Linked DNA regions of Homo sapiens: regions 1 and 3 are each linked to region 2. Evidence: fine-mapped expression QTL. A gene starts in region 2. Each other region holds a variant in brackets. All regions are shown on one strand. Distances are between the middles of the regions. Region 1 has its middle 59 kb from the start of SNORD17. Region 2 holds the start of BFSP1 (beaded filament structural protein 1). Region 3 overlaps BFSP1 (beaded filament structural protein 1).

Region 1 (5,506 bases), 370 kb after region 2:
GAGCCGAGATTGCGCCAGCACACTCCAGCCTGGGCAACAGAGCGAGACTCCGTCTCAAAAAAAAAAAAAAGATGCTCAACCTCAATGGTTACAGGGAAATGCAAATTAGACCCACAATATGCTGTGACTATACACTCCCTAGAATGGCTAAAATTAAATTTCTGAAAATATCAAGCATTGGTGAGGATGTGGAGGAAGTGAACTCTTACATGCTGCTGGTGGAAGTATAAACCAGTACAAGCACTTTGGAGAACCATTTGGCAGTTTCTTCTAAAATTAAACATACACTCACCATGTGACCAAGCAGTTCCACTCCTGGGTATATACCCTGAAAGAAATGAGTGCGTACACACACCAAAAAACATGTACAAAAATACACATTGCTGCTAAATCGATAACAGCCAAAAACTAAATACAACTCAAATGCCCATCAATAGAAGAATAGATAAATACATTGTGGTGTACAGCACAGCAAGAAAAATGAATGGGTTGCTCTTACGTGAAATATGAATGAATCTCAAAAACACAATATTGATCACAAGATATCAAATAAGCCAGGCACAGTGTGGCTCACACCTGTAATCCCAGAACCTTGAGAGGCTGAGGCCAGAGGATCCCTTGAGTCTAGGAACTTAAGACCAGCCTGGGCAACATAGGGTGACCCCATCTCTACAAAAAAATTTTTTAAAAATTAGCTGGGTGTGGTAGTGTGCACCTGTAGTCCCAGTTCCTCGGGAGGCTGGAGCGGGGGCACCGCTTGAGCCCAGGAGTTCAAGGCTGCATTGAGCTATGGTCACACCACTGCACTCCAGCCTGAGTCACAGAGGACTAAGACCCCTTTTTAAAAAATAAAAATAAAAAATAAAAAAATAAAAGGCAAAACTTATCTACATATGATGAGAGAGGTCAGAATAGTGTCTACTTGTTTAGGGCAGTGGGAGATGGGGATTGAGTGAGAAAGGGCCTGAAGGAACTTACTAGAATGATGGAAATGTTCTCTATCCTGATCTTGGTGGTTGTTACATGAGTGTATACATAGGTAAAAATTCATTGAGCATCCACTTAAGATTTGTGTATTTTACTATATGCAAATTATGCATCAATAAAAGAGCAAAAACAATCAAAACTCTTAGGTGACCACACCTGATATAAGCATGGCTGATACATTAAAAAGCTTGCATATATTACAATGAATACCATCATTTGGGAATTTAATATAATTTTGTAACAGCCTCAGAAACAGTCATATTCCAGAGGCCCTTGGCAACAGCTTTGTTGCTTACAGCTCACCAGCACCAAAAGGGACCCGTCGCTTTCCAACCAAGGGGGCTGTGGCCCTGCCCAGAACTCTCAAGGGATCCACCTTTCTGGGTCGAACTCTCACAGCTCCCAGAGTACCTGGGGCCAAGCACGTGAGCTGCCAGCAGGCCTTAGCACCCTGGGATGCCAGACCTGCTCAAACTTGGAGAGGGTCCTACAGGTCCTTGGAGGAAAATTACAAGCCCCAAGTACACTGGACACACAGAGTTTGCCTGTGATGAAAACTTAGATGAAGGAAGAAGCCCTTTAGGAGGGTCTTTCTTGTCTTCTGCAGATGTGCGGCTCTAGCCGTGCTGCAACGCAGACCATGGACCAGGAGCTCCCAACCTCAGCTGCACAGCACAGGGGAGCATTGGAACATGGGATGCCCGGACCGTCTGACCCACACCAACTGAATCAGAATCTTTAATATGGTGTTTCTCAGAGGGCCCCCTGGAGCCACAGCAACATTGTCACCTGGGAACCTGTTAGAAATGCACATTCTCAGGCCCCACTTCAGACCCACTGAATTCTGTGGCCAGCCCCAGCAATCTTTGTTCTGACTGTTCTCACAGTCCCTGCCAGGGGTTCTGATGCATGTGGAAGTGTGGGACCTAATTAGAAACTGCATTTCTAGCAAGTTTCCAGGCGGTGCAGATGTGGCTGCTCTGGGGACTACACTCTGAAAACCACCAGAGTCTAACTGTCTAATGGGTAGAGCCAAGCTCTGGGAGAGAGTGGGGGAAATTAAAAGCTACCCAGGTGAGTGGCTCTGATGCAGGTGAGAGTAATTAGCATTGCCATAGCCTCTCATCGTCTCATCTGACAAGAGGTACACAGCTGGAGAGGGAGCTCACACAGGTGAGGGCGTTACAGGAGAAGAAATACCATCTCCTCAATTTGACCTGTCTGTGGTCTCTTCATTTCTATAACACTGCAATTTGGGGTTCCTGGTACGGCAGAATTTAGGTTCTAGGTGCCTAGCCCTGAGAATTTGTTCTGGCAATATTGAAGCTGGAGACGTTTTTGTTAGAACACTTTGCATAAAAGCCTTTATGGGGAAGGGGACCTGATTTTACCTTAAAAAGCTAATTTTTGGCCCAAGATAGATGAGACTTAGAAGGGGAGAGGAAGTAAAGGAGGAGTAAAGAGAATGAAAAGAAGAGATGATGTGCAGGGCTGGGGAGGAGAGAGCAAATGGGGAGGAAGAGAAAGAACTGTGAGAGAAGGACTGAAAGATCGTCTCTCCTTTCCAAGGAGCGTCCGCCCTCTCTCTTTTTTTAAAATTGAGCACTGAGAAGGGATTTATGCAAGACTGGGTGCAAGAGCTGGGCAAGCTGATATGCAAAGCAGGAAAGCAAAGGATTGAAAGGAGTCAAAGTGCTGTCTTTGGCAGCACATGTATAAAATTGGAATGAAGGCCGGGCACCGTGGCTCACGTCTGTAATCCCAGCACTTTGGGAGGCTGAAGTGGGCGGATCACTTGAGGCCAGGAGTTCGAGACCAGTCTGGCCAACATGATGAAACCCGTTTCTACTAAAACTATGAAAACTAGCCGGGCGTGGTGGTGCATGCCTGTAATTCCAGCTACTCGGGAGGCTGAAGCAGGAACTCAGGAGGCACAGGTTTCAATGAGCCGAGATCACGCCACTGTACTCCAGCCTGGGTAACAGAGTGACACTCTGTCTCTAAATAAATAAATAAAACTGGAACAATACAGAGAAGATTAGCATGGCCCCTGCAAGGATGACACACGAATTCATGAAAAGTTCCATATCAATAAAAATTATTTTAAAATTTTTTTAAAAGAATGAGTTAAAGGAGACCCCAAAGGAGTGAGTGGGGGCTGGAGGCCAGGCCCACCATGGCAGAGGGTCAGACTTCATCAGGGTGAAAACTTCCTGCTGTGAAAAGCCAAACTACAGACTGGGAGAAAATGTTCACAGCACCTGTATCTGAAAAAGGATTTGCATTCCAAATACATAAAGAACCCATACAACTCACTAATAGGAAGGCAAACAGTGAAAACTGAGCAAAAGACATGAACAGACACTTCACAAAGGACATGCAAATGGCCAGCACGCACAGGAAGAGATGCTCACCCTCAGTAGTCTTCAGGGAGATGCAGAATGAAACCACAGTAAGATGCTACCTCACAC[T/C]CACAAGCATGGCTGAAAATAAAAAGATGTGTAATACCAGTATTGGTTAGAATGTAGGGCAGCTGAAACTCCTAGCTCACTGGCAGGAACTTAAAATAGTACAGGCTGGATGCAGTGGCTCACGTCTGTAATCCCAGCACTTTGGGAGGCCAAGACGGGCAGACTGCTTGAGCCCAGGAGTTTGAGACCAGCCTGGGCAATGTGGCAAAACCCCATCTCTACTAAAAATACAAAAAATTAGCTGGGTGTGGTGGCATGCATCTGTAATACCAACTACCCCAGCAGGCTGAAGTGGGAGAATCACCTGAGCCAGGGAGGTCGAGACTGCAGTGAGCTGTGATCATGCTACTGCTCTCCAGCCTGGGTGATAGAGTGAGACCCTGTCTCAAAAAATAAAGATACAAATAAAATAAAATAGTACAACTGCTTGGGAGAACTACTGGAGTTTATTTTAAATCTAAACAAACACCCACCATTTGACCCAGCAATTCTACTGTTATGTATTTACTGAAGTACCATAAAAACATAGGCCCACAAAAAGACTTGTACACAAATGTGAATAGGCGTAAGTAGCTAGTGGCCACCATAATGCTGTTGGATTTGATTGCTCAAAAGCTTGTGGAAGTCTACATTGGAATAATAGGTTGCCTTTTTAAAAGGCTTGTATCCAAATGTGCGTAACAGCTTTATTCACGATTGCTAAAAATTGGAAACAATTCAAGTAATCCATCAACTAGGAAATGGGTAAACAAAATTTGTTCTCTTCATAGAAAGGGATAGTAATAAAAAGATTGAAATTACTAATAGATGCAACAACATGGATGAGTCTTAAAATCACTGTGTAAAATAAAAGCTGGATGCAAGAGTGCCTACCATATGATTCATTTATATAAAATTTTTAAACAAAGAGAACTAATTTATAGTTACAGAAAGCAGATCAACGATGAACTGGGACTGAGGTGACTGCAAGTGGGGGACTAAAACACTTTCTGGGGTGATGGACAGGTGTTATATCTTGTTTAGGTGCATGCATTTGTCAAAAGTTGTCCAACTGAATGCTTAAAATGTATGAATGAGTTTTATTGTATGTAAATTATACCTCAATAACGTTTATTTAAAATGAATTGGCCGGCACGGTGGCTTACGCCTGTAACCCCAGAACAGCACTTTGGGAGGCTGAGGCGGGTAGATCACCTGAGGTCAGGAGTTCAAGACCAGCCTGGCCAACATGGTGAAACCCTGTCTCTACTAAAAATACAAAAAAAAAAAGAAAAAAAAATTAGCCGGGCGTGGTGACAGGCACCTGTAATCCCAGCTACTCGGGAGTCTGAGGAAGGAGAATTGCTTGAACCCAGGAGGCGGAGGTTGCAGTGAGCCGAGATCGTGCCATTGCACTCCAGCATGAGAGACAGGGCAAGACTCCGTCTCAAAAATAAATAAATAAAATGAATCAAAAATAAAAATATAAAAAAATAGCAGAAAAGAAAAAAGGACAAGAATAAAATAAAAATAAAGAAAAGAAAAATAAAGAAAAAAATAAGAAACTTTGTGGTAAAAATAATAAAACAGTAAAATAGGAAGAGCACACAGAATGGGAAGAGAAATGGACCAAGGTGAAAACCGTGAAGAGCTGTCGAACTTGAAGAATAGAAAAGGAAGAATGAGCAGAGATGCACAGGCAGAGGTCAGAATGAAGTCCTCTGGGGGTCAAAGAAGTAAGAAGCTTGGTGGCCACAGACAGCAGAGAGTTAAAAGAGCCAAGGGGGCCAGCCAGTAAGATTAATGCCTGGAGAGGGCTGTAGGATGGGGCCCGAGTGGAGAAGTGACTCCTGAGAGGCCAGTTCTGAAGGTGGGTTGAGGGGTGATAACTTGGGCTGAGGGAGCAGAGAAGGAGCCTTCGGCAGCTTTGTCAGGGAGCCTGGGGAAGGAGAGTGGGCTCCAACAGGAGGCTGCTGGGAGAACCCCAGGGGAAACCCACCTGGTGGCCTCAATCTCCTGACACTGTCTTTCACGTCTTCATTCCTACACAGGGATAGATATTGCTATTT
Region 2 (5,506 bases):
CCGGGTAGCTGGAACTACAGGCGTGTGCCACTACACCCAGCTAATTTTTGTATTTTTTAAAGTAGACACAGGGTTTCACAATGTTGGCCAGGCTGGTCTGGAACTCCTGACCTCAAGTGTTCTGCCTGCCTTGGCCTCCCAAAGTGCTGGGATTACAGGCGTGAGCCACTGCACCCAGCCCATAGTTAAATAATTTTTTTAAAGATATAAAAAGATGTTCTGTTAAAAGTCTCCTTCCCACCTCTGTCTCCCAATTGCTCAGTTCCTACTCACTTATCTCCCTCAGGTAGCCAGTGTCATTGGGGCATGTGCCTGTGTGTGTGTCTGTGTGTGTGTGTCTTTGTGTGTGTCCTGAAATTCTTTTTATGCAAGCAAAAAAAAAACTCTACTCTCCTCCCCTTTTAAAAGACTACATGACAATAACATACTTTTTTCCACTGCATAGTATTCCATTACATGGAGGAAGCACCTGTCTCCTTTTAATGGGCATTTATTTGGTTCCAGGCTTATTGCAGATCCTGCTGCAGTGAGTATCTTTGCAGGCATGCCATTGCACACCTGCTGGAGTGTACCTGTTGCAGTGAGTATCTTTGCAGCCATGCCATTGCACACCTGCTGGAGTGTACCTGCTGCAGTATTGGTGGAGGCATGCCATTGCACACCTGCTGGAGTGCATCCTATAATACATTCCTCAAAGTAGCCTTCTGAGTCAAAGAGCACACACATTTATAACTTGAAAAAATGTTGACAAATTGCATCTTTTTTTTAACAGCTCCTATGTGATTTTAACACATTACTCAATCTGTGGGAGGGGAGACCATGCCCTGGACCAGTGCTGCTTAGTCAACATTTAACTTTTTAAACTGAAAATCACCTGGGGAGCTTGTTAAAATGCAGATTCTGATTCTGGAGTTCTAGGGTGGGCCCAAGAATCTGTATTTCTAGCAAACTCCCGGGTGATGCCAATACTGCTGGTCCATGGACCGCACTTTGAGTATCAAGACACTAGAGGACACATACTGAGCATAATTCCCAGGTGTCAGCTGCTATGCCATGAAGGCAATTAGACTTAGCATGCCCAGGACCTAAATTCCAGTCCCGGGACAGCAGTTCGCCAGCTGAGGGGCCTTGCTGGCCAAATCCCTACATTTTCTGAGCCTCAGTCGCCTCATCTGTAAAACAGGTGCAGTAAAGATAAGTATGTAAGGATTAAATAACATCGGTACATCTCAAAACCAATGTGCTGAGCAAAAGAAGCCAGACAATAGAGTACATCCCGTAAGATTCTATTTTTGTGGAACTGTAGAATAGGCAAAGTCAATCTATGGTGATAGAAATCAGAATGGGTGCCTCCGGTCTGGGGCAAAGGGGACTGACTGGGAAAGGGGAGGAGGGAACTTTCAGGGGTAGTGGAAATATCTCACTTGTTTTCGTGGTAACACGGGTATATACATTTGTCAAAACTCACTGAACTATGCACTTCAAATCTGTGCATTTTATAACATGTAAGTTATACCAAAATTTAAAAATAGATGAAAAGTAAATGATACAACTTCGTGTAAACTGTGACGTGCCATCAAAACAGAAGCCAGTCTTAGCTTAAGGAAATGTGCCACCTGCGTGCAGGGATGAGGTCATCGATCGACAGGGGACCAGAGACGGCGCTCCACCCCTGCATGGTAGCAGCGTGCTCCCAGCCCCGCGCCGCCGGGACGGCCCACGCCCTGCCTCGGTTTCCCCCGATGGCCGCCGCTTACTTGCTTCGGAACTCGTCGAGCGCGCGCTGCGCCTCGGTGCCCTGGCGCTCCAGCCGGGCGCGCTCGGCCTCCAGGTCCCGGACGCGCTGGCGGTTGCTCTCGACTTGGCGGGCGAGGGCGTCCTCGGGCCCGGCCAGCTCGCCCAGGCGCTGGAAGGCATCCAGCTGCCTCCGGAGCCCGGCATGGCGCTGCTCGAGGGCGCGGGCCCGCTGGACGTGGGCGGCCACGCGCTCGCCGAGCCCCTGCAGCGCCGCCAGGCTCGTTGCCCCAGCCCAGCCCTCGTCGGCCGGGCGCTCGGGCTCGGCGGCGCGCGAAGCCTCGTCGGCGTGCTCGTACTGCTCCTTGCGGGTCTGGAAGACGTAGCTGCGCCGGTACATGGCTGCTCTGGCGCGGGCGCGCGGGCGGCGCCGAGCCGGCTCTCCAGGAGGCCCCCGGCGCAGCCCGCAGCCCGCTAAATAAACACCGGAGGCCCCCGGCGCGCTGCTGGGACGTTCCAGAGCCGATCAGCAGTTGGGCGCCACGCTGGGCCCGGGCGCGGGAGAAGAAAAGAGCAGCGGCCCGCTTTGTGCGGCGGATTAGCGGCCCATACAGCTCCGGGGTTGGAAGGTTACGCTGGGCAATGAGGTTTTTGTTCCGTGATTGTTCAGGCCTGTTGCTTTTGATTGAATGGAGGGTCAGGGGACACGGGAGCCATGACGCTCTTTTCACTGGTTCCACTGGGGACTGTGAAGGAATCCCCAAGCGAACTCTTTAAACTTGGACTAGCTCAAGAGCCCAGGGCTTGTCACTTTGTCTCCTCTTGCATTCAAACTCAATTGTAGAACTCTTTAACAATGCCATTTTTTTTTTCTGATTACTTAAGCAATTCTTTTTTTTTTCTTTTGGTCTTTTTTATTTCCAATTGCTCGGTTATGCATGCAATTCTTTTTCATAATCATAACATGACGTTTAGGACCCTTCTGTATAGCAGAGGTTCTTAACCATGGATGCAAAATAAAATGGCATGTCTCCATTAAGTAGTGAGGTGTGGCGCAAGTAATTTCTTAGTAATACCCGTGCATAAAAGCCTACAATAACTTAGGAGACATGCACGGTTATGTTTTTATAATTCACCCATGCTCTGATGGAGTTTGACATGCTTTCTTGAATGGAAAAAACAAATAGAGCCCCACCCATGGGCCTGTAATAGGTGGTTCACGCCTGTAATCCTAGCACTTTGGGAGGCCGAGGCGGGCGGATCACCTGAGTTCGAGGCCAGCCTGGCCAACATGGTGAAACTCCGTCTCTACTAAAAATACCAAAATTAGCCAGGCGTGGTGGCGTGTGCCAGTAATCCCAGCTACCTGGGAGGCTGAGGCAGGAGAATCGCTGGAACCTGGGAGGCGGAGGCTGCAGTGAGCCGAGATCGCCCCACTGCACTCCAGCCTGGGTAACAGAGTGAGACTCCGTCTCAAAAAAAAAAAAAAAAAGAAAAAGAAAAAAAGATTGCTTTTTTCTTTTTCTTTTTTTAACATAAAATGTAATACAAAAAAATTTTAATAAAAAATGAGATGGGGTCTTGCTATGTTGCCCAGGCAGGACTCAAACTCCTGGGCTCAAGTGATCCGCCATTAATTGGCCAACCCTCAATTCGAGAATAATAAAGGATTTTGTGCCATTATGTTCCATTTTAATTTTTATTATGGAACTAATAGTTGGATTTTAAGGACAAGCTTTTAAAATATATATATATAATTAATAGCTAGACTTTGACAAATTTAAAAGTAAATTTAAGAAAAGAAATTAATACCACTTGATGAGAATGTTTCTGAATGTAAATATTTTGTCATATCTCCAACTTTAAAAATAAGTATCAAAAGGGTTGTTTTCTTAAAAGGATTAGTAGTACCATATAATTACTAACTATATGGATTGTGTGTGATTATACTACAAATTAAAGTCATAGTTATCAAAGATAGAGAAAGAAAATTACACAGATCTTTGTGGAGTTTATTATTACACCAAAATATTACCTCAAGATAATAGATTCCGTCTGGAATAAAGCTCTGCAAGGCCCTAAACTGTGCTGGTGGCATGGTTATTGTTCTATTTTCTTAAACCATTTAAAATTAGATTTGGCCAGGTGCAGTGGACCACACCTCTAATCCAGAACTTTGGGAGGCCAAAGTGGGAGGATCTCTTGAGGCCAGGAGTTCAAGACGAGCCTTGGCAACATAGTGAGACCCCCATTTCTTTTATTTATAAAAATAAAAATAATAAATAAAAATACATAAAATGTAATTGTATGGTCAAATTGAGGATAACCACATGAATATTTTTGTAGGTGCACATATACCATGCTGATAGCATGGTAAATTGACTTCAGGCTTCCTCACGAGAGCAAAACCAACATATAGCAAGAGTTATAAAATCATTTGTTCCCTATGATACCATGTATCAGTCAAATATTGCTACAGAACAAAATAGAAGTATTTATCACTGCATTCCCTGGGGCTGGGAGCTCAGCTGTCTTCCAGCTGTAGGTCTCCTTTCAGCAGGGGCTGCTCTGCTCCCAATGTCCCTCAAGCTTCTAAACTAGCAATGAAAAAAGCACAAGAGCAAGCCCAGCCACACAAGCTCATCCCAGGCCTTTGTTTGCATCATGTCTGCTGACATCTCATTGGTCAAAGCAAATCACATGGCCACAAATAAAGTCAAGAGGAAGCAAGGAGGAGGCAGGGCTCAGCCTGAGGCCCTGGCAAGGGTGTGGGTGGATAATCCCATCATGCTGGAGTGGAGAATCAGGACCCACAACTCAATCGACCACACATGGCAATACCATTTGAGAAAAATATATTCTAGAAACATAACAAAAAATTCTTTCAATTTAATCCAGTGAAATAAACACTCAGAAAATATCTCCTCACAAAGCGTAGCCTCAGAGTTAAATATTGCACAAAATCAAGTCTCTGCCCTCAGGGTGCAGGAGGCGAATCCATACTGACTAATGAAAACACAAGATAATCTGGACAACTTCTAAAATAAAGATCTTAGCAAAATGCTGTGGTTGTATTGTCTAACTTCAGGTGCACTGGGAAATGCAATCCTGCTATGTGCTTAGAAGGAGTGTGCAATATTTGTCAACAGCCCTAAAGACCATATCACTGATAGGAGACCATTCAGTAGGAGTAGAGATCGTATGCATAAGGAAGAAATCATTGCTGAATGAATTTGTTAATTCAAGAGACATGTTCGTAGAGATAGATTCCACAGGACTTGATGAAAGGTCAGCTATGGAAGAGTTACTCTAAATACAGTTGAATGGCACTAGTTTGGGGGCAGGGACAGGAAATGGATGTTTTAGAATAAGAAAGATCTGAGGTTAAGTTCTGGTCCCATCACTTCAGTAAGTGATTTAACCTATCTAGTCCCAGTATGGAGACTGGTAAAATGAGAATAATCACTTATGTAAGTAGGGTAACCACACATCCCAGTTTGCCTAAGACACATTTACACCCACTATCTCAGCGTAAATATAGCAAGCACCATCTTTCACTCTCAAGGGTATCTTGGTTTGTCTGAGAAATACACGTCTTTTATCTGGCCTGCATAACCTGAATATGTAGCCTATATCTGACCATAAGGAATCATCCAGATAAATCCCAAAGAAGGAACATCCTATTAATAAAAACAGAAGGGGGATGGTATTCTATAAAAATGTTAATATCATAAAAGACAAAGAGAAGCTATGAAAATGTTCCAGATTAAAG
Region 3 (5,506 bases), 26 kb before region 2:
AGGCTGGAGTGCAGTGCTGCCATCAGGACTCCCTGAAGCCTCCACATCCTGGGCTCAAGTGGTCCCCACACCTTTGTCTCCTCAGTAGCTGAGACCACAGGTGAATGCCACCATGCCCAGCCAATTAAAAAAAAATTTTTTTTTGTAGAGACAAGGTCTAATTATGTTGCCTAGGCTGGTCTTGAACTTCTGGGCTGAAGTGATCCTCCCACCTTGGCCTCCCAAAGTACTAGGATTACAGGCGTGAGCCATAGCACCTATAATCTCTCACTTTTCTATGTTTGAAATCTTCCATAATAAAGAGTAAAAGAAAAAATTACATATGAAGAGAATGTACCCCAGATCACTGACCCAAGAGCTCTGGGGTGGCCGTTCCTTTTGGGTGTGGGTTCCCCAGCCCAGAGCGGGGGTAGTGGCTCATGCTGATAAGTCCTAAGCTGGGTCAACTCATCAACCTCACAACAACCTTATCAGGGAAGGGCTGTCATTATTTCCACTTTACAGATGAGGAAACTGGGGCACACTGGCAAAGTGGCTTGCCCATAAATACCACAGCAGGATTCGAATCTACCTGAACAAGGTCTGAAACACCTCCCAGAACCAGGCCACCCTTGCCCTGCACCTCAGCCTCCTCCCTGCTGCAGGCAACAATATGCAAGCACACACGTGCGTGCACACACACACACTCTGTCTCCAGGGCCCCTGCAAACTCCCCATTCCCACACAGCAACAGGCCAACACCAGCCTGTTCTCTCTGAAGACATGGGAAAGTCAGTGTGAGCCATGCAGAGACCTCTCCTTGCAGGTTTTCACTTAGCAAAGTTTTAAACTGTAAATAGAACCACAAAGCATCACAGAATGGGAAATGAGAGCCCAGGAAAGTCACCTGTGATCTTTCTACCCTACAAGTGGAGTGCAATCTTTTTATGTCTCAGGAAGTGGTGATTGTTGTTTTTGTGGTAGTGGTAGGGGGTGGAGGGATGGGGTGTTTTCTTGGGTGTGCATTTGTGTTTGTTTGAAGAAGGCTGCATGTTTTAAAGGCTGGAGATCCTCTGCTGGAACACTGCGGGAGGAGCTCCTGTCCTGGGCGCCCCCACAGCCCCCATCCCCCACATGACCATGAGGCCCAGAGCCCTCCAACTCCGTACTGGTCGCAGATGCTCTACGGGATTCTGCTGAGTCCAGTGAAGTGATGACTTGGTTTATAAAAGTGGACTGATGTCTATACCGATGTGGTTTTTACAGCTCCATAATTTAAACCTTTCATCAGAAGGAAGAGTGTTCAGGAAAACCAGTAAGAGCTCCTGTCTCAGGAGCTCAACAGGAATGGAGATGCCTGTGACGAGAGCCACTGTGGCACGGCGTCCACTGCCACCCAGCACCAGCCTGGCCGAGGAGAATGAGACACGGACCCTCCTCTAGAAGGCCGCAGTCCAGCAGGGGAGGCACGCCCAGGGCATCTCAGAGGAAGAAAGGGGCTTCCAGGAGGAGGCAGGACCGGTCCTGGGAACCGAGGAAGGAAAGGGACTTCCAGAAAGGAGAGAAGGAATGAGCAAAGGGGAGGTCCCAGAAACTGCAGGAGGGGTCAGGAGACGAAGAGAAGAGAGGTTGGCCCAGGGTTCCTCCAACGGTGGGGCCATGTGGCAACCTGAACTTTATCCGGAGCCAGGTGACTGCTGTTTCTGCCTGGACCGTTAGATTGCCTGGTTTATATCTGTCTCCCCACTGGGCTGTGAGCCGCTGAGGGCACGACACAGGCAGGAGCCTGACGCGAGCCCCATCTGGAGGGGTGAGCTCTCACCTCAGTCCTTAGGACCCCAGACACCTTTAGGTGTAAGGTTTTTTTTTTGTTTTTGTTTTTGTTTTTGTTTTGTCTTAAAAAAAAAAAAAAGGAAACTCATTACATACTGTCTTACACAAACTAAACCACTAGATGGTGCTAAGTGACTTTAATGAGAAATGAGACATGGGCGGTTCCCACTTTGCAATTTTAAAAAGTGACTTTCTTTACTTCCCTGTCACAGAAACTCTCAGTCCATGCAATTTAGGGAACTAGAATTACCTGTCCTTTCCTCTCCACCTGTCCGAAGTGCTTCCTCCGGGGCTCTTACGGGTATATGTGCACTTATTTGAAGGAGAGGCTTCCAGCTTCCAGCTCCAAGCCCAGGCACTATTCTCCCATCGTCCGCCCAGCGTCTCCCAGACTGAGCCCGCAGAGCCACGTGGAGGGCTTAAACAAGGCGCACCGGCCCGCCCCAGAGCTCCTGGGTCAGTGGTCTGGGGTGCCTGTGAATCTGCATTTCTGACAAGTTCCCAGGTGGTGCCCCCGCTGCTGGGACGGGGACCTCACCCTGACGACCCCTGCTGTGGAGAGTTCGGGAAGCTTCGGACGCCCTAACCATAGGCGGAACCCGCTGCCACGGCCCTGGTGCTAGCAGACGCTCTCTCTCGGCCCGCCCTCCACCGAGTTCCGGCCACAG[A/T]GCGGGCCCTGCCCGGCGGTGTGCGGCCACATCTTCCTTCAGCTCTAGCTTAGCTGCTACATTGGGAAGCCACTAAAACCTTTAAAACCAGCAAAAACCCAGCCACAAACATTTGAAATGAGGCCCAAGCCTGGGACACAGGGGGACCAGGTGGAACATTCGCCCACTCCCTGGGACCCGCCCTTACCCTGTGGTTCTCAGTGTGGCTCCTGGACCAGCCGCAGCACCATCACAGGGACACCTAGACATGCAGCATCCCGGGCCACACCCCAGACCCACTGAGTCAGGAGCTCCCGGGCGCACCCAGCCACGTCTGGGTTTTCATCAGAGCTAAGGAGGCAGAATTTTGGCCCCCGTGACCTTTTCCCCTTGGTGCTACACCCTTGAATATGTTACATGGCAAAAAGGGACTTTGCAGATATAATTAAAGTTCTTAATCAGTTACCCTTTTTTAAGGAAAGGAGTTTATTCAAGATTATCCCCTAAAAACAGAAGTCAGAGAAACGTGTAAGTCCAAGTCATTGAGATGAGACGCAGGAAGAGGGTTCAGAGTTCGCTGCCGGCTCCGAACGTGGAGGGGCCTGAAGCCAAGGAGCCTGGGCAGCCCTGACAGCCACTCCTGGCCAGCAGCCGGCAAAGAAACAGGGTCCTCACTCCTGCCAAGAACTTGAATGAGACTGGAAGCAAATTCTCCCCTAACAGCCTCTGGACAAGGGCCCAGGCTGGCCAACATCTTTCTTTCTACCTTTTGAGACCCAGAGCAGAGAAACCGATAGGACCCACCCAGACTTCCCACCTACACAACTGCGATGACACGGGTGCTGGTGGTGACTCATCAAGGCAGCAACAGAAAATGGACACAGCCGTGTTTCATCAGCTACATGCTATAGCTTGTTACTGAGTGAGTATAAGCACATCTGTCATTTTATTTAAAATGATTCAGTAATATTTTGATAACTGTTTTAATATAATTAGTTTCTTTTTTTTTTTTTTTGGAAACGGGGTCTCATTCTGTTGCCCAGGCTGGAGTGCAGTGGCTCAGTCTCAGCTCACTGCAGCCTCAACCTCTCCAGGCTCAGGCAGTCCTCCCATGTCAGCTTCCTAAGTAGCTGGAACCACAGGCACGCACCACCACGCCCAGCTAATTTTTGTATTTTTTGTAGAGGTGGGGTTTCGTCATGTGGCCCAGGCTGGTCTCAAATTCCTGGACTCGAGCAGTCCACTCACCTTGCCCTCCCAAAGTGCTGGCATTACAGGCGTGAGCCACCACACCCAGCCTGGTTTCCTTTAAATTATCTGTATTTTATTTTATGCCTTTACCATCATTTTTCTGAGAAGCGGTCTCCATCAGAATGCCACGGGTGGGAGTGGAGGAGGCAGCACAGAAGAGATGTTTGAGACCCTGCTTTAGAGACGAGGGCAGCAGGGAAAAGCCAGGAAGTCCTCCTGCAGCCACTCAGGACAGAAACAGGCGGCCAACCAGCGGTTTCATTTCATGTTCTCAGAAACCAGGTTAATCTGTTGTGAAATTTCTTATTTTGATATTCAACAAATACCTGTACATAAAGAGAGGAACATTCTTTTTGTCCTGGAACTGGAATTTGCCATCTAGGCTGGGCTCCTTCATCTTTCTCAGTATCTCTAGGGCAGTGGTTTTCAACTTTATCACCACCGCCCCAGGAAAAACCACATTTCTCATTGCGAGCCATACACATCAGATAGGTAGGTGTGTGTGTGTGTGTGTGTGTGTGTGTGTGTGTATTTCAACATATCCATATGGATATAGAGAGATAAAACAAGGGCTTCACAAAACAAATCCTCCCTTTCACTTGCTGTACACTCTGTTTTTCTTATTATATTTTAGTCTAGCATTTTGTTGACTTCCTTTTACATGCCAGTCAATTCTACTGAGTTCATTTTACATCCAAAAATGAGTTGTCACTAGCCATTTGGAAAACACTGGTCTCTAGGACCACGACTGGGCTTGTATCCACGTCCCTATTCACATACACAGCACACACACATACACATGACACACACACACCACACACACTTCACATACACATCCCACATATATCACACATACCATGTATATCACACACACACACCCCATGTACACAAACACATACAACCCTTATTCTATCCTGTCAGAGCCTCAGAAGAAACCACACAGGCCCCAGTCACCAGGATGAGGCACATGGTCCCTGAGCCAGGGTTTGTCTCACAAGAAGGAGGAGTTTTAAGTGCCTTACTTGGTTCCTCCTGCTGCGATCGTCAGTTCAGGGGACCACCACAGACCCGGGTTTGCTTTCCAGCAGCCCCTGAGAGCTGCTGCACTGTGAGTTTTGTGTGGTGCGTGCTGGGATGGGAATTAGGATGTGAACTCCAAGGTCCCAAAATGAAATCCTGAGCAGACATGGGGGCACTGGAAATCAATAAAAAGCGCTACATCTAGTTGTGGCTTCACATTTTTAGACAGAGTAACACATAACATCCAAATGGTCCAGGCTTTCTGAAGTGTCCGATTTTTACACGTTTTGCTCTCTTGTCCCCATGTGTACTTGTCAAACCAAATGTCAACTTACTTTTTGGTTTGGGAAATGTGGTTAGAGAGCCATACAAAGGTGCAGTATTTTAACCCAAGCGTCCCTGTGGAATGACCTGCTGTAGGGTAATGAGAAAGAGAGAGAACCGGAAGGAACAAAGAAGATGAGCCGGCAAGTAGCCAAGAAGGCACAGGCCACAGGACAGTTTGGGGCTTTTCTGTTTTGTTTTCAAATTAAGCTTCACCCAAAAGGGGTGGGGGTAGAAATGTGAGCTTTCCACCAACACGTTTCTAACTAGAAGCAAACACTGATACAACCACTCTTGCCGGGTTGTAATCAAATTCCGAAGGAGAACTGTTACCATGAGAAGGAAAACAGAAGCACAGATTTGAACAAGTGGAGGATAAAAATCCCTATGGTGTCCGTTTCTTCTTATTCTTACGAAGCTTGACCTGGGCAAAATGAATGCATGATGTAGAC

The links. PIP is the estimated chance that this variant, and not a neighbour inherited with it, causes the effect.
Region 1: its variant is fine-mapped to the expression of BFSP1 in whole blood (TOPMed, PIP 0.91).
Region 3: its variant is fine-mapped to the expression of BFSP1 in blood mononuclear cells (TOPMed, PIP above 0.99). The same link has a PIP of 0.9 or more in T cells and whole blood.

What each region holds. Positions count from the first base shown.
Region 1 is chr20:17,900,782-17,906,287 of GRCh38, forward strand. It overlaps the pseudogene RNU6-192P. Among named protein-coding and RNA genes, the nearest start is that of SNORD17, 59 kb to the right of the region's middle. RefSeq lists an enhancer at 3,378-3,437. The variant T/C (reference allele first, on the strand shown) is at 3,459.
Region 2 is chr20:17,529,196-17,534,701 of GRCh38, forward strand. It overlaps BFSP1 (beaded filament structural protein 1), which reads right to left and starts at 2,184. Exons shown (of 8, transcript NM_001195.5): 1 at 1,758-2,184. The coding sequence starts at 2,134. RefSeq lists enhancers at 1,444-1,984, 1,985-2,524, 4,338-4,397 and silencers at 1,679-1,728, 1,749-2,078, 2,199-2,248.
Region 3 is chr20:17,503,067-17,508,572 of GRCh38, forward strand. The region is part of intron 5 of BFSP1 (beaded filament structural protein 1); the gene reads right to left. Among named protein-coding and RNA genes, the nearest start is that of BFSP1, 26 kb to the right of the region's middle. RefSeq lists an enhancer at 1,446-1,969. The variant A/T (reference allele first, on the strand shown) is at 2,481.